Linked DNA regions of Homo sapiens: all the other regions are linked to region 1. The links come from fine-mapping of genetic effects on gene expression. A gene starts in region 1. Each other region holds a variant in brackets. All regions are shown on one strand. Distances are between the middles of the regions. Region 1 holds the start of CAB39 (calcium binding protein 39). Region 2 overlaps CAB39 (calcium binding protein 39). Region 3 has its middle 58 kb from the start of LINC01907.

The links. PIP is the estimated chance that this variant, and not a neighbour inherited with it, causes the effect. A credible set is the group of variants that fine-mapping cannot tell apart.
Region 2: its variant is the best candidate, but not a certain one, in a credible set for the expression of CAB39 in whole blood (INTERVAL, PIP 0.54).
Region 3: its variant is the best candidate, but not a certain one, in a credible set for the expression of CAB39 in whole blood (TOPMed, PIP 0.63).

Annotation. Positions count from the first base shown.
Region 1 is chr2:230,709,236-230,717,418 of GRCh38, reverse strand. It overlaps CAB39 (calcium binding protein 39), which reads right to left and starts at 4,577. Exons shown (of 9, transcript NM_016289.4): 1 at 4,189-4,577. It overlaps LOC124907996 (formin-like protein 16), which reads left to right and starts at 4,093. Exons shown (of 4, transcript XM_047446832.1): 1 at 4,093-5,340. The coding sequence starts at 4,093. The coding sequence ends at 4,851. RefSeq lists a silencer at 3,866-4,805.
Region 2 is chr2:230,770,713-230,778,895 of GRCh38, reverse strand. All of the region lies in intron 2 of CAB39 (calcium binding protein 39), which reads right to left. Among named protein-coding and RNA genes, the nearest start is that of CAB39, 62 kb to the right of the region's middle. RefSeq lists an enhancer at 4,008-4,302. The variant T/C (reference allele first, on the strand shown) is at 4,982.
Region 3 is chr2:230,638,176-230,646,358 of GRCh38, reverse strand. No RefSeq gene overlaps it. Among named protein-coding and RNA genes, the nearest start is that of LINC01907, 58 kb to the left of the region's middle. RefSeq lists an enhancer at 1,727-1,896. The variant G/A (reference allele first, on the strand shown) is at 3,209.

The DNA of each region.
Region 1 (8,183 bases):
AGTCACTAAGGGCACAGAACGTACGAACTCTCACACAGCTCAATTCCTTCTGTAATTAAAGAAGGCTCTAATACAAGTCTTCTTACAATGGCCAAAAGATACTGATGACTAAATTGCTATGCAAATTTAGATTACCTGACTTCATAATAATGCCAGATCTTTACACCTCAGTAATAACAAGTCACAAGTAATTTAACCCAGAGATTCAGATTTGATATTTTTTCCCCACAATTTTATCAAAGTGTGTAAAAAAAAATGTTTACCAGTTTTTCTGTTATCCAAATTAATCCACCTTCCACAGTCCCATTTCTGTAACATGTAAAGACGTTCATAAAATCAAATGCCCAATTAAAAGAAGCAATGAAAAAGAGGAAAATGAATTTTTATTTTTATTATTTTTATTTTATATATACATTTTTTGAGATGGGGTATCACTCTGTCACCTCAGGCTGCAATGCAGTGATCAAAATTCACTGAGGCTGCAAATTCCTGGGCTCAGGCAATCCCTCCTGCCTCAGCCTCTTGAGTAGCTAGGACAACAGGCACACACACCACCATGCCCGGCTAATTTTTTATTTTTGTGGATATAGGGTCTTGCTATGTTGCTCAGATCGGCCTCCAACTCTTGGGCTCAAGCAATCCTCCCACCTTGGCCTCCCAAAGCACTGGGATTATAGGAGTGAGCTACCCCGCTCGGCCTGACCTTTTAAAATAGGGCTGGAGGCCAGTGTGGTCAGGCCTATAATCCCAGTGCTTTGGGAGGCTGGGGCAGGAGGATGGCATAAGCCCAGGAGTTCAAGACCAGCCTGGGCAACAGAATGAGACACCATCTCTTTTAATTAAAACATTTTTTAAATTAAAAAATAAAATAGAGCTGGAATAGAAACAATGCCAGAAAGGTAAACAAAAGACAATACCTGAAACAAAATTCGTCCTACTACTGAATTTTATTTTTGGGGGTTGGGGAGGTTGGATTTGTGTATTTTCATGGCAGATGGCTAAACTGTGAGTGATTAGTCATCAATCTGGAAAAAAGGCTCTTGGGAAAGTATGGCAATAACTAAAGAAATCTGTAATCCCACAAAAGTTGATCAAAACAGAAAACTTTAGTAAATATTCCAAGGTAATAAAGACCCTGTGTGGCATACGTATTTGCAATATACAAACATTCAAATAAAATCAAGTTACCAAACCCCATACTTATACTGGACTTTCTTAGCAGTTCTTCTACATTAACTTTAGGAAACGTATACAGCCTTACTCAGCATCTTACTTCATACGTGATGAAACAGAAACAGAGATCTTATTAATACACCTTAGAATGTAAAATACATGGGAAAAAACTGACTTAGTACAAGAACCTGAAGTAGAAAATGCTAATGAAGGGAAGTAAGCTGCCTTGAAATAAAAAAACAGATATCCAGGCAAGCGTGGTGGCTCACGCCTGTAATCCCTGCACTTTGGGAGGACAAGGCGAGATTACTTGAGCCCAGCAGTTCAAGACCAGCCTGGGAAACATGGCAAGACCCTGTCTCTATAAAAATACAAAAATTAGCCGGATGTGATGGTACGAGCCTGTGGTCCCGTCTACAGGAGGCTGAGGTGAGAGGATGGCTTGAGCCCAGGAGGTTGAGGTTGCAGTGAGCCATGTTCGCACCACTGCACTCCGGCCTGAGCGACCGAGTGAGAACCTGTCTCAAAAAACAAAACAAAACCAAAAAGGCAAATACCACCCATTTGTTATAGTAGCAAACCATTTCATGAAATATTCTATGCTTATATCCAGCCTGAGTCTTCGTGATGTCATGTTCAAAAAATAGTTAACCTATATGGATGGCCCTAGTGTAGAGACTATTTTTCAGGAGCGAAGTGGGGAGTGGGAAGGGACACTGCATCGCCGTCTGTGGGGGATGGTATACCAGCCATGACAGTAATCTTTTGACAACATCCCTTTAAAAGTCCATTCACTCCTATAGCAGAGATCTGTGTGCTTTCTTCCTCTTCCACACCTCATGACAACACACATCCTGCCAAGAAAAACTTTATTCAACAAGCAAGAGGATCCAAGTCTTACAGAGAAAGAAACATACTTCAAACAAGAAACTTTCAGAAAAAGTTCTGTCCACACTAGTAGTTATTAAGCCTAACTACTGCATTTCATCTGAGGTAAATAATACAACCTTGTCAGGAAAACATAACATGCTTAGAAGACTTCCATTGTTGAGTAAAAATTTTTTATATGAAGATATTTAATGACAAGAAAAGCTTAATAAGAGATGTGTGTGTGTATACATATGCATACAATATATTTCATTATGCAAAGAAAAAATACACAGAAAAAGACTGGAAAGAAAATACGCAAAAATGTTAGCAGTAACCAAATCTAAGTGGTAAGATTATAGAAAATGTTTTAAAGATTTTCTAGCACTCCCTGAATTTTGGAAGCTTTGACAAAGATCATGTATTATTTTGAAAAGCAGAAAATTTTTAAACTGCAAAAAGGTGGCATTCACTTGTCATACACGCAAACAAGTGCAAGCTTACAAAACTTAGGCCCTAAGCTGCTTTCACAGATCGTATATTCTAGATTTCGAATACAGCTGCTAATTACTTCCTAACAATTTGAACAAACTACAAAATAAAGCTAAACACTTTCACTTCTGGCTCTACTATAAAGATTTCATAATAAAATAAAATATAAAAACAAAGTTTTACCTTTCTGTAAAAGGTCTACGTCTGGCTTTCTACAGCAGAATATTACTAACCATTTTTTAAAAATCATCAATTTATGTTATTTTACACAAATGCCACCTCAAAGAATGTAGGTTTAGCTTAGTAATTCCAAAGTACATACGCCTAATACAAAGTGCAAGAAGTTTTTATGCACTGTAGCGAACGCACAAATAGAAACACCTTCTGTGTGCAGATGAGCTTATTTTATAGACACCTTTCCATTACCTCTTAAGAGCCTGATATCTAATGAAGCTTTCTGCAAAGGTACTTTGCTTAGCCTGGGCATGGATTTACTTGATTATCTGGGAAGCTGTCAAAATCGATCTGAAACTGCATTACATTCAAGGCACAGAATGTCAACTCCTGACTGGGCCTCCTCCTCTCTCCTTTCACAAGAGCGCCTTTAATATCCCCTAGCCTACATTTCCGGGCTCATGAGTCACTGAGAAATGAGCTCTAAGTTTCTCTTAGAATGCTGCTCAAATAGCTCCTCTACAGCATTCAAGGATCTGGCCCCAAAATACCTCTTTAGCCCAATACCCCCCGCCCCCTGCACCATGCCAACAAACGGAATTATCCATGATTTCTAGGCTTTGTCTTCTCGCTTTTGCTACCCCTTCCACACACCTCTTCTGCAATCCTCCTCTCCTAAATCCCATCAGGCCTTCAAGACTCTGCTCAGCATCCCCCGCCCAGGAAGCCTTCCAGGTTTCTGCGAGGCAGAAGTGATCGGTTCGGTTTTTCCGGGTGCCGTTCTAGCACTCCGTCGTTCTTTCACAGGACTTATCACCTCCTTCCCGGTATCGCAGTTATTTGTGTTCTCGTCTTATCTCTCACACCAGAGCCTAAGCTCCTCGGGGGAGGGGACCGGGGCCCGCTTCACCTTTGAATCCCTCCGGTGCGGGCCGACTACGGCGCCTGCACGCAGTCTGCGCTTGGGGTGGTTCCATTGAACTCCAGAACGCTCCGACCGCCCAATTCCTAACCAGAAATCAGTTAGGCATTTTCCTGAATTGGTCACAAAGCTGGTATCTGCCTCCCGACAACAGGAAGTTTACCAGGGGCGGGAGCGAGGCGCTGAAGCCCGGGTGCAGCCGGTGACAGTTGACCCGGCCCGCACTTCCCCGCCCGCCCGACTCCGGCCCGGACCACCACGCGCCGCCAGCCCCGCCAGAGAACCACGGGGGGAGAGGCAGGAGCGCCTGGACTGCAGGCCCCCGGGCGCCCCACGCCGGCGAAGGCAAAGGGAGCGTCTCAGCGAGGGACCGGAGCCGAGCCGGGCGGAGAGGGCAGGCTGGGCCCGGCTGCTCCCGGGGGCTCCGGGGACAAGCTGGGCCGGGGCCGCCGCCACCCAGGAAAATGGAGGCAGCCCCGGGGCCGGTGAGGGCCCAGCGGGGCAGGCGGAAGCCGGGCAGGCGTCCGCACCACGAGCAGGGCCGGCCGGGGGTCACTCACGGGGCTGGGCCGGGCGTTCCCTTCTCTGCCTCCGCGTCGTCGCTGTCCCCGTCCTCGGCCGCCGCCGCTTCGGGCTGCTCGTTCGGTCCCCGCGGAGTGGCTCGGACGCTCGGCCCCTCCGTTGTCTTCCGCCCGCTCCTGCTCCCGGCGACGGGCTCCCGCGGCGGCGGCGGCTGCGCGGGCGGACGGCTGCCCAGGGGCTCCCGCGGCTGCCGCCGCGCTGCTGCGCTCGCTTGGGCTGCGGCTGCTGCTGTGGGGCCCGGCGCCGCCTTAGTCTTCGCCTGTGCCCCCGCCCCGGCGCCTGAAGGCTCTGTGTCTCCCAGGCCGCGCCGCTCCCCGAACCCCTCGCCCCGCTTGCGGCCCGAGCCCGGCTTTGACGTGCGCACTGCGCAGCCGCCGAGGACGCGACGTCGGGCGGTGCCGCAACGCCCCCTTCCGCCTCGGGCGCCCCCGAGCGGCCGGCGGACTCAGGGCGCCGCAAGTAGGCGCGAGGCCCGAGCGGGAGGGGCCGCAGAGAAAAGCAGAAGCCAAGCCCCGCAGTTCCTCTTCCTCCGCCGCAGCTTCCAAGGCGGGGCTCAGCCCTTTCTCCTCCGCCTGAGCGCTCTTACTGCGGGAATCGCACGCCCACTTTCAACGACCACTTCCTCAACTCTTCAAGCTTAATTCTGCGAGAGGCCGGGATCCCACTTTGTGCAGACCGATTCTTACTTTCTTGGAGCAGATCGCTTCATTTTAGCATCCAGGGGGACACAGCATCCAGGGGGACAAGTGCCAGAACGTTCCAGATTAATGGGAATATTCCTATTTAAATCAGCAACCTGGATTTAAGTCCTGCTCCACCATTTGCTATCTATGGGCTGTTTCACGTCCCTGTGCCTGGATTTCCTCACACATTAAAAAAAAAAGTGTGTAATAATATAGTGGTACCAGCCACGGGCTTCTGAGGATGAACGGGACAGTGCATTGCAAAGCTCTGACAACGGAGCCTGGCACATACAAATGCCATATGTGTGTATTTTTGTTTCTTTGTTTTTAATGTGTAACTGAACTACTTTTTAAGCGCCTCCTGTACGTCAGGGATGGGGCAGTGAGCGAAACAGTCCATGCTCCTAGCACAAACAGTTGACAAATAATTGACTAATAAACCTACAGGTATGTATAATACTGGACAATTGGGCCAGGCGCGGTGGCTCACGCCTGTAATCCCAGCACTTTGGGAGGCCGAGGTGGGCGGATCACGAGGTCAGGAGTTCAAGACCAGCCTGGCCAACACCGTGAAACCCCATCTCTACTAAAAATACAAAAAACAATTAGCCGGGCGTGGTGGCGGGCGTCTGTATTCCCAGGTACTTAGGAGGCTGAGGCAGGAGAATCGCTTGAACCCGGGAGGCGGAGGTTACAGTGAGCCGAGATCGCGCCACTGCACTCCAGCCTGGGCGACGCAGCGAGACTATCTCCAAAAAACAAAAACAAAACAAACAAAAAACAACAACAAAAAAACAAATACTGGACAGTTAAAAACACCACTGGGTGAGGAGGGGAGAGAAAGCAGGGTGTTGTTATTTACAGTGTTCATTCAGGGAGCAGCTTCCTGGAGAGAGAGAGCCTGGGAGCTTTCTGTATGGAAAGGCAGAGGGAATAGCAGGACCAAGGCCCTGAGGCGAGAATCTGCTGGCTTGAAAGCGGCCCCAGATAGGGGAAGAGATGAGGAAGAAGTGCGGCCCTACCAACCAAAGTTAGGACTTCCTGTTTTTACTCTCAAGGAGATGGGAAGCAATTTGAAGGGTTGCGAGCAGAGAAAGGACGTGGAATGACATTTCAGGAGGATCCCTGTGGCTGTGGTATGAGGACCAGACTGAAAGCCCTGAGGGTTTCAGCAGGGGGACCAGCGAGAAGCCTGTTGAAATCAGCCAGCCAAAAGATAAGACTGTCCGGCCGGGCGTGGTGGCTCGCACCTGTAACCCCAGCACTTTGGAAGGCCGAAGCAGGGGGATCACCTGAGGTCAGGAGTTCGAGACCAGTCTGACCAGTATGTTGAAACCCCGTCTCTACTACAAATACAAAAATAACCCCAGCTACTTGGGAGGCTGAGGCTGGAGAATTGCTTGAACCCGGGAGGCGGAGGTTGCAGTGAGCCGAAATCGCGCCACTGCACTCCAGCCTGGGCGATAGAGGGAGACTCCATCTCAAAAAAAAAAAAAAAAAAAAAAAAAGATAAGGCTCTGTCCAGGGTGGTGGCAGTAGAAGAGTAAAATGATCACCTGTAGACACGTTTAAAAGGTGGCTCACGCCTGGAATCCCAACACTTTGGGAGTCCAAGGTGGGAGGATCATTTGAGGTCAGTTCGAGATCACCATGCCCAACATGGTGAAACCCTGTCTCTACTAAAAACACAAAAATTAGCTGGGCATGGTGGCGGGCACCTGTAATCCCAGCTATTCGGGAGGCTGAGACAGGAGAATCGCTTGAACCCGGGAGGCAAAGGTTGCAGTAAGGGGAGATTGCAATGAGCCAAGATTGTGCCACTGCACTCCAGCCTGGGCAATAGAGCAGTACTCAGTCTCAATAATAATAATAATAATAAAAGGTGGCTCACGCTTGTAATCCCACCACTTTGGGAGGCAGAGGAGGAAGGATCACTTGAGGCCAGGAGTTGGAGACCAGTCTGGGCAACATAGTGAGACTCCTGTCTCTAGAAAAAAAAATTAGCCAGGCGTGGTAGCATGTGCCTGTAGTCCCAGCTACTCCAGAGGCTGAGGTGGGAGGATCACTTAAGCCTGGAGAGTCGGGGCTACGGTGAGCTGTGACTGTGCCACTGTCACTCCAGCCTGGGCCACAGAGTGAGACCCTGACTCAAGAAAAAAAATAAATAAATAAAGGGTAAAGCTAAAAGGATTTTCCTGATTTCTAATTTTTTTTTTTCTCAAGCAACTGGAAAATACAATTTGGTGATATGGGGAAAATTTAAGCAGAAACAGATGTGAAGGGAGGAACTTGGAAATTTACTTAGGGACATACAAAGTTTGAGCTGCCTGTTGGACACCCAAGTTGGAAGTTGGACTTAAGAGTTCAGAGGAGAAGTCCTGGCGCGGTGGCTCACGCCTGTAATCCTAGCACTTTGGGAGGCTGAGGCAGGCGGATCACCTGTGGTCAGGAGTTGGAGACCAGCCTGACTAACATGGTGAAACCCCGTCTCTAATAAAAATACAAAAATTAGCCGGGTGTGGTGGCGTGCGCCAGTGGTCCGAGCTACTCTGGAGACTGAGGCAGGAGAATTGCTTGAACCTGGGAGGCAGAGGTTGCATTGAGCTGAGATTGCGCCACTGCACTCCAGTCTGGGTGACAGAGCGAGACTCGGCTCAAAAAAAAAAAAAAAAAAAAAAAAAGAAGACTTCAGAGGAGAAGTCTGGGCCACAGACAGAATTTAGGTGGTTCTCAGAGTAGGTAAAACCTCTGAATTCAGTGAGATCCTTTAGGATGTGAGTGTTACTACTAAGCCCAGTCCCCCAACAATGACAGGTCAGGGAATGGTAAGGAACCAGCAAAGAACCCTGAGAGGGAGGAGCCAGTTTGGTAGGAAGAGATCCAGGAAAATCTGGCCAGGTGAGGGGGCTCATGCCTATAATCCTGGCACCTTGAGAGGCAGAGGCAGGTGGATCACTTGAGGCCAGGAGGTCGAAACTAGTCTGGCCAACATGGTGAAACCCCATCTCTACCAAAAATACAAAAATTAGCAGGGCGTGGTGTTGCATGGCTGTAATCCCAGCTATTCCGGAGAGTGAGGCAGGAGAATTGCTTGAACCCAGGAGATGGAGGTTTCAGTGAGCTGAGATCACACCACTGCCGTCCAGCCTGGGTGACAGAGGGAGACTATGTTAAAAAAAAAAAAAAGAAAGAGAAGGAAAGAAGATCTCAGGTGATCCACTCAGGTGATCTCTACTAAATACAAAAAATTAGCCAGGCGTGGTGGCACATGCCTATAATCCCAGCTACTT
Region 2 (8,183 bases), 61 kb before region 1:
TATTTTTGCTGTACCTTTTCTATGTTTAGATAAACAAATACTTGCCATTGTGTTCCAACTGCCTACAGTATTCGCTATAGTAACAAGCTACACAGATTTGTAGCCTAGGAGCAACAGGCTGGAAGAAATCGCCTAATGATGCATTTTTTGGAATGTATCCCTGTTGTTAAGTAACGTGTAACAGGACTTCAAATTTTTAAGGATAGAGTCCATAATAACCTCTTCAAGTAGCACTAAGGCTATGAGATTTTTCACTGCCTGCTTTCCCATTAAAAAATAAAACAGGGTGGGAAAATAAGCAATTAGTAAGCTAAACATTAGTACAAATGGCCTTTTCAGAGATCACCAAAACCTCAGGAGGTTTCGTATTAACTCTCTTGACTTAAATCCAATATTCCCACGGTACCTATCAGTGCACTATTTTACTGTCACTAGAGGCAATTGCTGATAAAAAGTAGTGATACAAAAGTACAATTTCAGAAGACTCGAGAAGACAGCTCACATACCCATTAGTGCTTCTATGCAATGTCCTTGAAGTACTCACAGCCCTTACCAACACTCCTCCTCTGGACTCAAGCACTCAGTAGATCCAAACCGGCCTTACGTTAGGAAACAAGGTGACAAGAAGGCTACTTCCACATGAAGGGACAGGACTTTACTTGGTGAGATACAAGACTGGGCTGCCCTCTTCACTGTCCCCAATTTTTAGTAGTTAGTAGCAATTCTAACCTCAATATAGAAAGCACACTTAAAGACAAACATAGTAACATGCTGAAGTATACAAATGGCTAAGTCAGACATTAAAAACCTTACAAAAGATTCTATTTCATAGTAATAGTAACAATCTTAAAAGGATAAAATATTCTTCCTTCTTATCAGAGGCAAAGGCTTTTAGATACGCCACTGGTAGGAAAATAAATTGGTACAACTTTACTGGAGGGCAATTTGGCAAAATGTTATTGAAGAGTTTTAAAAGGTGCAAGGCCTCTGACTCATTTCTGCAACTTCCTGTGAATTATACTTTCAGGAATTTACCCTATGGAAACAGACAAGTACACAAAGGTAAGTACATGCAGTGTTACTTACAACAGCAAAGAATTAGAAGTAAAAGTTATCCCACTGAACTAGTTTAATCATTACGTACCCATAAAATGGAAGAACCACGGCAGGCTTTAAAAATAATTGAGGGCCAGGGGTGGTGGCTCACACCTGTAATCCCAGCACTTTGGGAGGTGGTCAAGGTGGCGATCACTTGAGGTCAGGAGTTCAAGACCAGCCTGGCCAACATGGTGAAACCCCATCTCTATTAAAAATATGAAAATCAGCCAGGTACCTGTAATCCCAGCTACTTGGGAGGCTGAGGCACAAGAATTGCTTGAACCTGGGAGGCAGAAGTTGCAGTGAGCTGAGATTATGCCACTGCACTCCAGCCTGGGTGACAGAGCAAGACTCCATATTTAAAAAAAAAAAAACAAAATTGAGATCTATATGCACATGAAAAGATGTTAAAATTTAAAATTAAAAAAAAAAAAACAAAAAAAACACCAACAGGTTACAGAGCAGCATGACCCCATACTCATTTACTTATCTGCCCCAGAGAGAGGGAGAAAACAAGCTAGAATATGAATGAGAATCCCCACCAAGTTAACAGTAGTCATTTCACGTGGTACTGAATTAAGGATAAACTTAATTTTTTTCTTTATAGTCTTGTATTTTCTGCTTTTTGGGGGAATGAACATACATCATATACATCATTAGAACATGACTTTGTATAGATACAGAAATAAATTAGAATCTATGAAGGAAACAAAGATCTTTCTCGCACACACTCATACACACTTCCCTACTACACAATGTAGAATTCCAATATACTAGTTAGAATAAAGTAAAACTAAAAAAGTGGATGAAAGGCCAGGTGCGGTGGCTCAAGCCTGTAATCTCAGCACTTTAAGAGGCTGAGGCGGGCGGATCATGAGGTCAGGAGATCGAGACCATCCTGGCTAATACGGTGAAACCCCGTCTCAACTAAAAATACAAAAAATTAGCCGGGCGTGGCAGGCGCCTGTAGTCCCAGCTACTGGGGAGGCTGAGGCAGTAGAATGGCATGAACCCAGGAGGTGGAGCTTGCAGTGAGCCGAGATCGTGCCACCGCATGCCAGCCTGGGTGACAGAGCGAGACTCCATCTCGGGGGGGGAAGAAAAAAAGTGGATGAAGTGAGACAGAGCACCTGGAACCATGACCTACTTGTTTCTCCAGAGCAATGAACTAGTGACACTCACAACCACTTGTGTGGATCTCATGGGAATGATGCTGAGTGGAAGAAAGCCCATCTCAAAAGTTTACACACTATATGATTCTATTTATTTAACATTCTTGAAGTAATAAAATGTATAGACTTGGAGAACAGATAAGTGTGATGCAATTGCATAGAGCTATATGCATATCCACACAAACTGTAAAACTGGTGAAATCTGAACAAGCCCTGTGGATTATACCAATGTCAATGCTCTGGTTTTGATATTGTATATAGTTATGTGAGAGGTTACCACTGGGGATATGGGTGAAAGGTACATGGGTTCTCCTGTACTCATTTCAGCAACTTCCTGTGAATTAATTAATTTCAAAATAAACAAAACAAAGTAAGGCAACATAAGACTTCTATAGCGTAAGACCTCTTGCACTCCCCCTCAGTATACCCTTAGGTTGTCTATAAGGCCCTTTTCATTCTACCAAAGCTTGTTTCTCTAGTCTTACTTCCTACCATTCCTCTTTATCTCCACCTCTTAAAGTCACACTGAACTTGTCACTGTTTTCTGAACATGCCATAGGTTGTTTCAAATTCTGTTCCCTTTCACACTTTGCCTGCCAAAAACCTTAAAAATCAGCTTAAACGTCACTTCAAACCTGTCATCTCTGTATCTGTCTCTGACAGACGTAGGAACTGCTTTATCCTCTTGGTTCCCACAGAATTTTATCTGCGCCCCCAAGTCCCTCTATATTATATTATTTACATGTGTATCTCCTCTACTGGATTATATACTTTTTTAAGAACGGGGACAAGGTTTGACTCCTATGCCTATCTGCCCACACAGAGAGGCACTAAAATGTCTGTGGATTCAATCAAACTGGGGATCTCTTGCAAGAGATAATGATGCAAGTAAAGACAGTAGACAACAACAAAGGCAACCATGCATGAGGAAAACGTTAACTCCAATGCGCACCACTGTTAAGTCATCTTTTTAGAAATAATTTTGAAGGGATCTATTTAGCAAAATTTTCCATACCTGTGTTCATTAGTTTACATAACTGAATTGATTCTAACTTACATATAACTAGTTATTGTTAAGAAATGCCTCAAAGAGGCCAGGTGTGGTGGTTCATGCCTGTAATCCCAGCACTTTGGGAGGCCACAGTGGGAGGATCACCAGGTCAGGAGATCAAGACCATCCTGGTCAACATGGGGAAACCATGTCTCTACTAAAAACACAAAAATTAGCTGGGCATGGCAACGCATGCCTGTAATCCCAGCAACTCAGGAGGCTGAGGCAGGAGAACCAGTTGAACCCGGGAGGCGGAGGTTGCGGTGAGCCGAGATCACACCACTACACTCCAGCCTCGCAACAGAGCTAGAGTCTGTTTCAAAAAAAAAAAAAGAAAAAAGAAAAAAAGAAATGCCTTAAAGAGCTCAGATTTGGGGGGAATGATGAGGCTTAAATTATTATTTTTTGTTTTTTTTGAGTTTCTTTAAACCCAATCTTTAACAAAAGAATCATTTTAAACAAGAGTCCTCTAAATATTTACCCATTTATATTTACTGCCTGAAATATCAATTCATTCTACAAGAAGAGATTAAATGACCTTGTTGAAAAAAGAAAGTTCTATATCAAAGTAAATGAAGACCAAGATGTGAAATGGAATCTAAAAGTGAACTGACAGATACTGTTGGTGCCAAGTATTTGATAATAAGAACAATTCTATTATCACATTAATTCCAGTGATAAATGCTTTCTACCTCCCCCAACCCCCACCTCTTTACTAAAGAAAATGTCTGCATAGTCTAAGCTGAATGATCATGGACTAAGGAAAGTCTATTAATAACCTTCTGGTGTCCAAGATTACTGTAAACAAGTTTAGTAACCATGAGTCACTGTTAAATGGCCATGCTATGAAGAGGCTACTCCCTTTCCCCCCTCTTAAAATATGTCAGCAAACTTACTCCTCTCATGAAATGAGTGAATATAGCTATTCAACCCTGTGAACACAAGCATTCATCGTAAGGAAGGGAACCACCTATAAGCTGAGCAAGGCAGCCATACCTCCTTTATACAGCATGTGGTGGGCGAAGAGTGCGTAAATAGTCCCCACATACACCACATCTGTTTGGTTGTTGGCAGTGAAAGACTAAGTCCCACCCCACCCCTGCCCCTAGTTACCTAAAAATAAGGATGGTAACATTAACCGCTTTTTTAAAATGTAAGAAAATTAGTTTTGTATGAATTCTTTTAAAAGAATTAGTCTCCTAAGAGACTAATCTATTTGTATCATACACAATTCTTAATGTGGTAACTATGTACCATATAAAACAAATACAAATACCAACATATAACAAATAAAGGAATAAACACTCAAATGTTATATTTATCATTTTGTCTGTGAGATCACAAGAAATGGATGGAAAAAGCCCAGGGACATAATGAATAAAGTGGAAAAAGGCATAATTTTACCATGGATTTGGCAGAGCTAGGTGTGAATTCCGTCTTTGACTCTAATATAATGAGTCAAAGTAATAAGCCTAGTAAATAACAGCTTTCTTCATCTGGATCACGGGAAACCAGAATCAATTCTATCTCAAAATAAGATGGGGGACTCTATACAAAGGCACCTTGCAAAGTATGGTGGTATATCGATGTAAGGATATGTCAACAGTGCAAAGCTTGAATTCCTTCTAGAATACTTAACTAAGTGGTCACCTAGTCCATG[T/C]CAATACCTCTTCAGAAACAGAAAACTTGCTGTCTTCTGAAAAAGTCAGCTTCCACTTACTGTTTTTCCTAATATCAAGACAAAATTGGACTTCTTGTTTTATTTCCACTCATGGGTCTGAATTCTACCTCCTGCCACGATCAGTTCGAATCCTTTTGTTACATTATATGGTCTCCCAAATACATTTTACTAAGAGCAAATCCGCCCTACAACATTACTCTGCTCAAATCTTCTCCCTAGGCTGTACCTCACATCTTGAGGTCATTCAACTGTTCCTCACAGTAGAGTTTTGAATTTCTATGTCAGCCTGGTCACTCCTCTCTTGGCACACTGCAGTTTCTCTACATCCTCAAGTGTGGACTTGCCTATACAGAGTAGAAGATAATCGCTGAATTTCAATAGTGTATTTCAAGTATTGCAATCTAGCCTTCCAATGGCCTTTCTGGGTGCTTTATGGTTTCTAAGCCACATCTGCCCCAGTTGGTACATAAACAGTCTTTTTTTATTCACTACTGAGTTATAAATGACATACAATGAACTCCACATATTTAAAGTACCTAATGTAACACACACACACACACACACACACACACACACACATATATATATATATATACACATACACCCATGAAACCATCAAGATAGTGAACACCTCTGTAACCACCAAAACCGTAACCACCAAAAGCTTTATGCTCCTTTGTGGTTCCCTCCCTCTACCATGCAACCCTTCCCCTAAACATCTTTATCAAAGCTAAAGCAACCACTGATCTGCTTTCTGTAATTATGGATTAGCTTTGTTTTCTAGAGTTTTGTGCAAATAGAATCATATACTATGTGCTCTTTATAGTCTGGCTTCTTTTGTTCAACATAATCACTTTGAGATTCATCCATGCTGTTGTATACAGCAATAGTTTTTTTTTTTTTTTTTTTTTATTGCTGAGTAGTACTCTGTTACATGGATGTACTACAGTTGGTTTATCCACACGTCTGGGCCATTTACAAATAAGGCCGCTATGAACATTTAAGCAAAAGTCTTTTCATGAACATATATTTCTTGTTCTCTTGGGTAAATACTTAAATGGCTAGATCATATGGTTGGTTCGAGTTTGGTTTAAAAAGCTGCCAAACTAGGCCAGGCGTGGTGTCTCACGCCTGTAATCCCAGCACTTTGGGAGGCCGAAGCAGGCAGATCACGAGGTCAGGAGATCGACACCATCCTGGCTAACACGGTGAAACCCCGTCTCTACTAAAAAATACAAAAAATTAGCCAGGCGTCTTGGTGGGCACCTGTAGTCCCAGCTACTTGGGAGGCTGAGGCAGGAGAATGGTGTGAACCAGGGAGGTGGAGCTTGCAGTGAGCCGAGACTGTGCCACTGCACTCCAGCCTGGGCAACAGAGTGAGACTTCGTCTCAAAAAAAAAAAAAAACCTGCCAAACTATTTTCCAAAGTAGTCATACCATCTTATATTCCCACAAGCAGTTCCAGCTGCTCTGTATCCTTGCCAACATTTGGTATAGTCAATATTTTCCATTTTAGCCACTCTAATAGCTGTGTAGTGGAATCTCCTTATGGTTTTACTACACAATTTCCTAATGATTAACATCTTTTCAAGGGCTTATTTGACATCTGCCTATCTCCTTTGGTGAAATGCATATATGAGTATCTTGCCCACTCTTAACTGGATTGTTTCTAACTGTTAAATTCTGAGAATTCTTTATATATTCTAGATGCAGTCTTTTATCAGATATATGCTTTGCAGACTTTCTTCCAGTTTGTGGTTTGTCTTTTTCATTCTTCTAACAGTGTCTTCTGAAGAGCAGGTTTTAATTTTTATGAATTCCATTTATCATTTTTTTTAAAATGAATTGTGCTTTTTGCATAACATCCAAAAATTATTTGCCTAACCCAAGGTCACAAAGATTTTCTTCTGGCAACTTTATAATTTTAGGTCTTACATTTGGCTATGTGATCCATTTTGAGTTAATTTTTAAATATGGTATGAGGTCTGAGTCCTATCTTTCTGCCTACTAAATAGTTTCAGCACCAATTGTTGAAACAACTACCTTCTTTCTGCACAACTGCATTTATGCCTTTGTCAAAAATCAATGTTCCATACATGTGTAGGTCTATTTCTGCACCCCAATCTGTTCCATTAATATATCTATCTTTGCACTGACACCACACTGTTTTAACAACCGTAGCTTTTTAAGTCTAGAAATCAGACAGTGTGAGCCCTCCAACTTTGTTTTAATTAGTTATTTTGATTACTCCAGGTCTTTTGCACTTCCATTCAAATTTTAGAACAAACTCTTTGATTTAAAAATCCTGCTGGAATTGCACAGAATCTCTAGATACATCTGGAGAGAAGTGACATTTTAACAATATTGAGTTTCCCAACCCATGAACAACATGTATCTCCTGCTTATTTGGGCTAATTTCTCTTAGCAGTATCTTGCAGGTTTCAGTGTACAACTCTTTCACTTCCTTTGTCAGATTTATCCCTATTTCATGTTTTTATGCTATTCTAAATGGTATTTTTAGCATTTCATATTTTTTGATGCTATTCTAAATGCTAGTTTTTTTCTTTTTCTTTTTTTCCATTCTTTTTTCCCAATTACACCTAACACTCTTGAATACAAGGTATTTTTAAATTTCAATTTTGGACTGTTCATTGCTACTATACAGAAATACAACTGATTTCTGTATATTGACCTTATAACCTGTGACTCGCTAAACTTATTTACTAGTCTACTAGTTGTGTAGATTCCTTCAGTTTTTCTATGTAGATGATCATGTCATTTACAAATCAAAAGTTTTACTGCTTTCTTTTCAATCTGAATGCCTTTAATTTATTTTTATTGCCTGACTGCATAGGCTAGAACCTCCAAGTACGAAGTTGAATAGTTGTGGTGAAAGTAGATATCCCTGTCGTCTTCTTGATCTCAGAGATAACATGACTTAGCCTTTCACCATATGTATAATGCTAGCTGTAGGATTTTTGCAGATGCCCTTTATCAGCTTGAGAAAATTCCCTTCCTCTATTTCTAGTTTGCTGAGATTATTTTTTTTATCAGGAATAGATGCTGGTTTTTTTCCCCTTTTCATCAATTGACATGTACTTTTTCAATATAGTGAATTATACTGATTAACTTTGTAATGTTATACTAGCTCTGCATTCTAGGAATAAATCCCACTTGGTCT
Region 3 (8,183 bases), 71 kb after region 1:
AGGAATGAGAATAAAGCATGAGAAAATATAGGGGGGTAGATAGGGAACTGGAGGATGGACTTCTGGCCTCCATGGACTCACAGAAGCTGAGCCACCGCTCCTTCTCCTCGTGCCTGCCCTTCTCCCAGCTAGTCTGGCTCTAACTTAAAGTTCCATTTCCCAGATTTCCATTTGCCCATGATGCACTGGGAGCCTGGTAAGTGACTGAGGAGTGGAGAGAGGCAATAGAAAGCTTTGGGGGAAAGCCCACAGATCCTTGAAAACACAGACACTCCATGTTTTCTAGTCTGGAACATCACTTTCAGAATCTGCCTGTCACTGAGCTTTCTTAGGCATGAACCGAAGCAGGAACGTCCCACCCTTTATTCTGTGAGTTAAGACTCGGCTGCAAAAGTTGCTGGATACAAAGTCTATATATAAGAATCAATGGGATTTTTACAAACTAGAAACAAACCAGTAGAAATAATTTTTCTCGGCCGGGCGCAGTGGCTCACATGCATAATCCCAGAACTTTGGGAGGCTGAGGTGGGCGGATCACCTGATGTAGGAAGTTCGAGACCAGCCCGGCCAACATGGCGAAACTCCGTCTCTACTAAAAATACAAAAATAAGCCGGGCGTGGTGGCGCATGCCTGTAATCCCAGCTACTTGGGAGGCTGAGGCAGGAGAATCCCTTGAACCCAGGAGTTGGAGGTTGCAGTGAGCCGAGATCGTGCCACTGCACTCCAGCCTGGACAACAGAACAAGACTCCGTCTCAAAAAAAAAAAAAATTTCCCCTTTTTTTTTTTTTGAGAGAGTCTCGCCCTGTCAGCCAGGCTGGAGTGCAGTGGTACGATCTCATCTCACTGCTACCCTCTCCTCCTGGGTTCAAGTGATTCTCATGCCTGTGCCTCAGCCTCCTGAGTAGCTGGGATTACAGACACCTACAATCACACCTGGCTAATTTTCATATTTTTAGTAGAGATGGGGTTTTACCATGTTAGCCAGGCTGGTCTCGAATTCCTGATCCCAAGTGATCTGCCTGCCTCGGCCTCCCAAAGTGCTGGGATTACAGGAGTGAGCCACTGCACCTGGCCAGTCTTTCTTTCAAATTTTAGAGACAGGGTCTTGCTGTATCGCCCAGGCTGGAGTACAATAGCTCTTTACAGGCACAGTCATAGAACACTGCAGTCTTGAACTCTTGGCTTCAAGCAATCTTCCTGCCTCAGCCTCTTGAATAGCTCAGATTACAGGTGTGCACCATTGTGCCAGCCAGAAATGATTTTTTTTTTTTTTTTGGAGTCGTGCAATCGTGGCTCATTACAGCCTCAACTTCTGGGGCTCAAGTGATCCTCCCACCTCAGCCTCCTGAGTAGCTGGGATTATAGGCGTGTGCCACCATACCTGGCTAATTTTTAAGATTTTTTTGTAGAGACAAGGTCTCTGTGTTGCCCAGGCTGGTTTTGAACTCCTAGGCTCAAGAAATCTGCCCGCCTCCCAAAGTGCTGGGATTATAGGTGTGAGCCACCATGCATGCTCCAGAAATAAAAAATTTTAAGGAAGTATTATGTAGAACAACCAGGGCTGGGACTGGAATGAGGCAAGAGAGGTATCTAAGACACAAAATTGTGAGGAGGCATTCACTCTCCTCTTCTCTTGCCTCACCCTACTCCTGCACTTGAGAAACTATCAGAAAGGGTAGGGCGCAAGGGCACCATGGCTCATGCCTGTAATCCCGCCACTTTGGGAGGCCGAGGTGGGCAGATCACTTGAGGCTAGGAGTTAGAGACCAGCCTGGCCACGATGGTGAAACTCTGTCTCTGCTAAAAATACAAAAATTAGCTGGGTGTGGTGGTGAGCTCCTGTGGTCCCAGCTACTCGGGAGCCTGAGGTGGGAGGATCACCTGAGCCCAGGGAGGTCAAGGCTGCAGTGAGCCAGGATGGTGTCACTGCACTCTGGCCTTGGTGACAGAGTGAGACCCTGTCTCAAAAAAGAAAAAAAAAAAGAAAAAAGACTGAATTTTACTGTAGGTAGATTACACTTTAATTTTTAAAAAAGGAAAAAACAAAGTAAGGCCCTTGGGCTATTGGAAACTAGCTACCCTGACGTAGATCAGCCAAAGTACCCCAGCTCTATAAGCTCACTTCATGTGAGCTCGAGCCCTGTATGCACTTTGCCCCACTCTTAAAGGCACCATGGGAGGAAACGGAAAGTTCAAGAGGCAGGAAGAAGTCAGAAGAGCCATGTGATGAGTATCTAACTGTATTTAGCTTCAGTTTCAAGATGTGGTGAACATGCAGAAGAGAATGAAAAACTCCCACTGCCTCTTGTCCCCAGGTTTTAGGCAGGAAACTTGATTATGAGTAAAATAATTGAGTGATTGGTTTATTGGATAGACAAGTGACAGGAAACATCCCACCCCCGCTCCCGTGTCCCCTGCCCTCCTGCCCACTCAAACCTGCTGTTTGACATCATCTTGTCTATTTCTGCTGTCTTGGTTTGGGTGTCCCTGGAAACAGACCCTGAGACGTGAACTGGGTATAAATAGTGAGGAAGTAAGATAGGAAAGGGAATGGGCCATTAAAGAGTGAGTTTTCAGACCAGAGGTCACAGCATTATCCCGACTGAGGGGCAGGAAGCTGTGGTACTTACCCAATGACTTCCTGTCCCTCCTTGGTTGAAGACTACTTCCAGGCACTTGACCACTCCAGCACTTCCTGTTTGCCTTGCTCAAGCGTTGAGCACCCTCCCTGGCCAGATAAAAGCTGTTGGGCAGAGGCTCGGGTATTGGCAATACAAGGCCTTCCTGCGTAGGTTGAATGCCCGGGATGTGGGCACAACAGTGCTCACTAGACCTGGTTAAAATCTGGGGATGGCCCACAGTTTTTCCAGGACCTTTTAGTTATAAGAACAGACTCCTTTTAATAATTAAAAAAAGTCTTATCTCTTCTAATATTCAATATTTTATCCTACTAACGCCCTCTACCCTGCTTCAGCTGGGGCCTGTCTTAGTCCAGGAACTGTGGGGAGTGGTCTGATCGCTTTTCTGACTCTCAACCTCTGGTCTCCTTCGCCACCTGTTCTTTTGGTCTCTGCAGGACTAGAGTGGGCAGGGGAAGAGAGGTGAGGGGCAGGAAGGGCTTTGGTTGACCTGCTCTGTTGTAATTTTAAGTGGGAACTCCAGGGAACTGGATGACACCTCCTGCTGCCCAATTGATCACCAATGCA[G/A]GGTCCCTGCTTTCTGGTTCATTCCCCTGCTTTACTTGCAGCAAGTTCTCCTGGGCAGAGTCTCTCTCAAGGAGACCTGGCCCAGCTCCTTTCAGCGAGCCCATCTCTGGCCTCTGGGAGATGCACATCCATCCTTGTCCCACCAGGCTCTGGAAGTGCAGGCCCTTTCCACCACCGTCATGTCTCTTCCTGTATTTGCCAAGCAGGGTGAGTTCCAGCCATGGCCTCCAGGCTATAGATTCTTTGGGTGTGGCTTCAGTCCCGAGTCCTTCGTGTCTATCTCTCCAAGGGATTCCTTATTTTTTAATTTTTAAATTTATTTTTATTTTTTGAGATGGAGTCTCGCTCTGTAGCCCAGGCTGGAGTGCAATGGCGTGATCTTGGCTCACTGCAACCTCTACCTCCCGGGTTCAAGTGATTCTCCTGCCTCAGCCTTCCAAGTAGCTGGGATTACAGGCGTGTGCCACCATGCACAGCTGATTTTGTATTTTTAGTAGAGATGGGGTTGCATCATGTTGGTTAGGCTGGTCTCGAACTCCTGACCTCAGGTGATCCACTCGCCTCAGCCTCCTAAAGTGCTGGGATTACAGGCACGAGCCCCTGCAGCCAGCCTCCAGTGGATTCTTTTAAAGCCCCTCACTTGGCTTGAGATGGTACAATCTGCCCTGTGTTGCCAGCTTGTCAGCTGGGAAGCTTTGGGCTGCAAGAATGCCAGATCTCAGTTAAACTGGTTTAACTATAAAGCCTTTGACTGTAAGACATTCAATGTTTCAGGGCAGACTGATCTTGCGGTTTTAAGACATCTCCCATGACCCAGGACCTTTGAGTCTCTCTGCTCTGTTGCCCACCCTGTTGGCTGCATCTGAAGATGGCTGTTGCCAGATGTAATCCAAGCCTTATGCTTTCTGGTTCATGTCTAGTGGCTCACATCCTTCTCGAGGAGCCCTCTGTCCCACTATTCTAAGAGAGAGTGCTGAGAGCCACTCCGATCGGCCCAGTTAAAGATGTGTCCACCTCCAAACCAACGACTTATGGAGGATAAAATAAAAAATGCTGATTGGCTAAGCCATCTCAATGGTTTCCTGTATGCAGAAGGGGTAAACGTACAAACGAAAATTTGGGTATTGTTAGGAAGAGGGGAATGGATGCTGAGTAGACAACTGCATTAGTTTCCTGGGGCTGCCGTAACAAAGTACAGTCATGCATCGCCTAACAACGGATACGTTCTGAGAAATGCATCATGAGATTTCATCATTGTGTGAACATCATAGGTTGTATTTACACTAATCTAGATGGTGTAGCCTACTGCTGGTACCTAGCACACCTAGGCTACATGGTGTAGCCTACTGCTCCCACGCTATGAACCTGGACAGCATGTTACTGTATTGAATACTGCAGGCAATTGTAGCACAATGGTATTTTGTATATCTGTTTTCTTTTGTTTCTTTCTTTTTTTTTTTTTTAGACGGAGTCTCGCTCTGTTGCCCATGCTGTAGGGCAGTGGCGCTACCTCGGCTCACTGCAACCTCCGCCTCCCAGGTTCAAGAGATTCTCCTGCCTCAGTCTCCCGAGTAGCTGGGACTATAGGCATGCACCACCACGCCCAGCTAATTTTTGTGTTTTTAGTAGAGATAGGGTGTCACTGTGTTGGCCAGGATGGTCGTGATCTCTTGACCTCATGATCTGCCCACCTTGGCCTCCCAAAGTGCTGGGATTACAGGGGTGAGCCACCACGCCCGGCCCAATTTTTATTTTTATAGCCTATTTTTACTGTAATTTTCTATGTTTAGATATACAAAATACCACCGGGTGTGGTGGCTCACACCTGTAATCCCAGCACTTTGGGAGGCTGAGGTGGGCGGATCACGAGGGCAGGAGATCCAGACCATCCTGGCTAACATGGTGAAACCCCGTCTCTACTAAAAATACAAAAAATTAGCCGGGCTTGGCAGCAGGCGACTGTAGTCCCAGCTACTTGGGAAGCTGAGGCAGGAGAATCACTTGAACCCGGGAGGCAGAGGTTGCAGTGAGCCAAGATCACATCACTGTACTCCAGCCTGGGGACAGAGTGAGACTCCATCTCAAAATAAATACATAAATAAATAAATAAATAATAAAAATAAAATTTCGTACACCTCTATAGGGCACGTGCCATGAGTGGAGCTTCCAGGACTGGAAGTTGCTCTGGGTGAGTCGGTGAGTGACTGATAAATGAATGTGAAGGCCTAGGACATTACTGTGCACTGCTGTAGACCTTATAAACACTGTACATTCGGCTACAGTAAACTTATAAAAAATAAAGTAATTGCACAACAATGTACAATGGTTATGATATCATTAGACAATAAAAATTTTTTCAGCTTCATTATAATCTTATGGGACAAGCATTGTGTATATGATTCATTGTTAACCTAAACATTGTTACTCGGCACCAGACTGTACCCAAAACTGGGTGGCTTAAAATAATAGAGATTTATTGTTTCACAGTCCTGGAAGCTAGAAATCTGAGCTAAAGACGTCAGCAGGTGGTGCTCCCTGGGGGAGAACGCTTCCTTGTTTCTCACAGCTTCTGGTGTTGCTAGCAACCCTTGGGGGTTTTTTTTGTTTGTTTTTTTTTTGAGATCGAGTCTCCCTCTGTCACCCAGGCTAGAGTGCAATGGCGCGCTCTCAGCTCACTGCAACCTCTGCCTCCTGGGTTCAAGGGATTCTCCTGCCTCAGCCTCCTGAGTAGCTGGGACTACAGGCATGTGCCACCATGCCCAGCTAATTTTTGTATTTTTAGTAGAGACGGGATTTCACTATGTTGGCCAGGCTGGTCTTGAACTCCTGACTTCAAGTGATCCATCCGCCTTGGCCTCCGAAAGTGCTGGGATTACAGGTGTGAGCCACCACTCCCGGCCGGCAACCCTTGGCATTTCTTGTCTTGCAGCTGTACTGCTCCAGTCTCATGCCATCTTCTCCCCGTGTGTCTTCACATTATTTTCGCTCTGCATATGTCTGTGCTCACAGAGTTTTCCCTTATAGGACATCAGCCATATTGGATTAGAGGCCCGCCCTACTCAAGTATGACCTTGCCTTAACTAATCTGCAGTGACCCTATTTCCAAAACGGTTATGTTCTGAGGTAGTGGAAGTTAGGGCTTCAATATATCTTTTTTTGGGGACACAATTGAACTCATGACAACAACAAACATCTACTTAAAACTATTCTCACAGCCAGGCACTGTGGCTCATGCCTTTAATCCCAGCACTTTGGGAGGCTAAGGCAGGAGGATGGTTTGAGGCCTGGAGTTCAAGATCAGCCTGGGCAACAACATAGTAAGGTCTTGACTCGCCAAAAAAAAAAAAGCTTATGCCTGTAATCCCAGCACTTTGGGAGGCTGAGGCGGGTGGATTGCGAGGTCTGGAGTTCGAGATCAGCCTGGCCAACAAGGTGAAACCTGTCTCTACTACTACTAAAAATACAAAAAATTAGCCAGGCATGGTGGTGCGTGCCTGTAATCCCAGGTACTTGTGGGGCTGAGGCAGGGGAATCGCTTTAACTCAGGAGGCGGAGGTTGCAATGAGTGAAGATTGCACCATTGCACTCCAGCCTGGGCGACAGAACAAGACCCCGTCTCAAAAAAAAAAAAAAAAAAAAAAATTAGCCAGGTGTGGTGGTGTATGCCTGTAGTCCCAGCTATTTGGGGAGGCTGAGGAGGGAGGACTGCCTGAACCTAGAAGTTCAAGGTTACAGTGGGCCATGATTACACTATTGCACACTAGCTTGGGCAACAGAGTGAGACGCTGTCTCAAAAAAACAAAAAAGCAATTCTGGATTTAATGTGATGAATAAATTACATGATTAAATTAAACAATATTGTGACTGGGCGTGGTGGCTCCTGCCTATAATCCCAGCACTTTGGGAGGCTGAGGCGGGTGGATCACCTGAGATCGGGAGTTTGAGACCAGCCTGACCAACATGGAGAAACCCCATCTCTACTAAAAATACAAAATTAGCTGGGTGTGGTGGTGCATGCCTGTAATCCCATCTACTCAGTGGGCTGAGGCAGGAGAATTGCTTGAACCCGTGAAGCAGAGGTTGCGGTGAGCTGAGATTGCACCATTGCACTCCAGCCTGGGCAACAAGAGCGAAACTCCATCTCAAAAAACAAACAAACAAACAAACAAACAAAAAAACCCCAAAAACCCAAAACCAAAAACCACAAAACAATATTGTGCAAAATAAGCTATGTGAATCGTTTCTTTTTTTTTTGGAGACAGGGTCTTGCTCTGTCACCCAGGCTGGAGTGCAGTGGCATAATCATGGCTCGCTGCAGCCTTGAACTTCTAAGCTCCAGCAATCCTGCATCCTCCCGCCTCACCCTCTCAAGTAGTTGGGACTACAGGCATGTACCACCACACCTGGCTAACTTTTAAATTTGTTTTGTAGAGAAAAGGCCTCACTATGTTGCCCAGGCTGATCTCAAATTCCCGGGCTCAAGTGATCCTCCCACCTGGGCCTCCCAAAATGCTGAGATAATGAGTGTGAGCCACCATGCCTGACCAATCTTGTCTATTTCTTATCAGCAGTTTTACTTAAAAGAAATATTGACCATTTCTGAAGTTATTAAAAAATATATGTTATCTATTCCGAAGAGAAATTTCAAAGAGGAGTATCAAAAATATTTTTACTGGTCAGGCATGGTGGCACACGTCTGTAATCCCTACTCAGCTACTCAGCTACTCAGGAGGCTGAGGCACGAGAATCGCTTGAATCTGGGAGGTGGAGGTTTCAGTGAGCCGAGATCACACCTCTGCACTCCAGCCTGGGTGACTGAGCAAGACTCCATCTCAAAAAGCAAAACAAAACATACTTTTTATTATTGCAGCATCATTAGAATACAGGCAAAGCCTCCAAAGGGTAGCATGGTGGGCACTCATTTGGATGAATACCTTCTGGTGAGTTCGGGAATAGTCACTCATTCTCCTCCAAG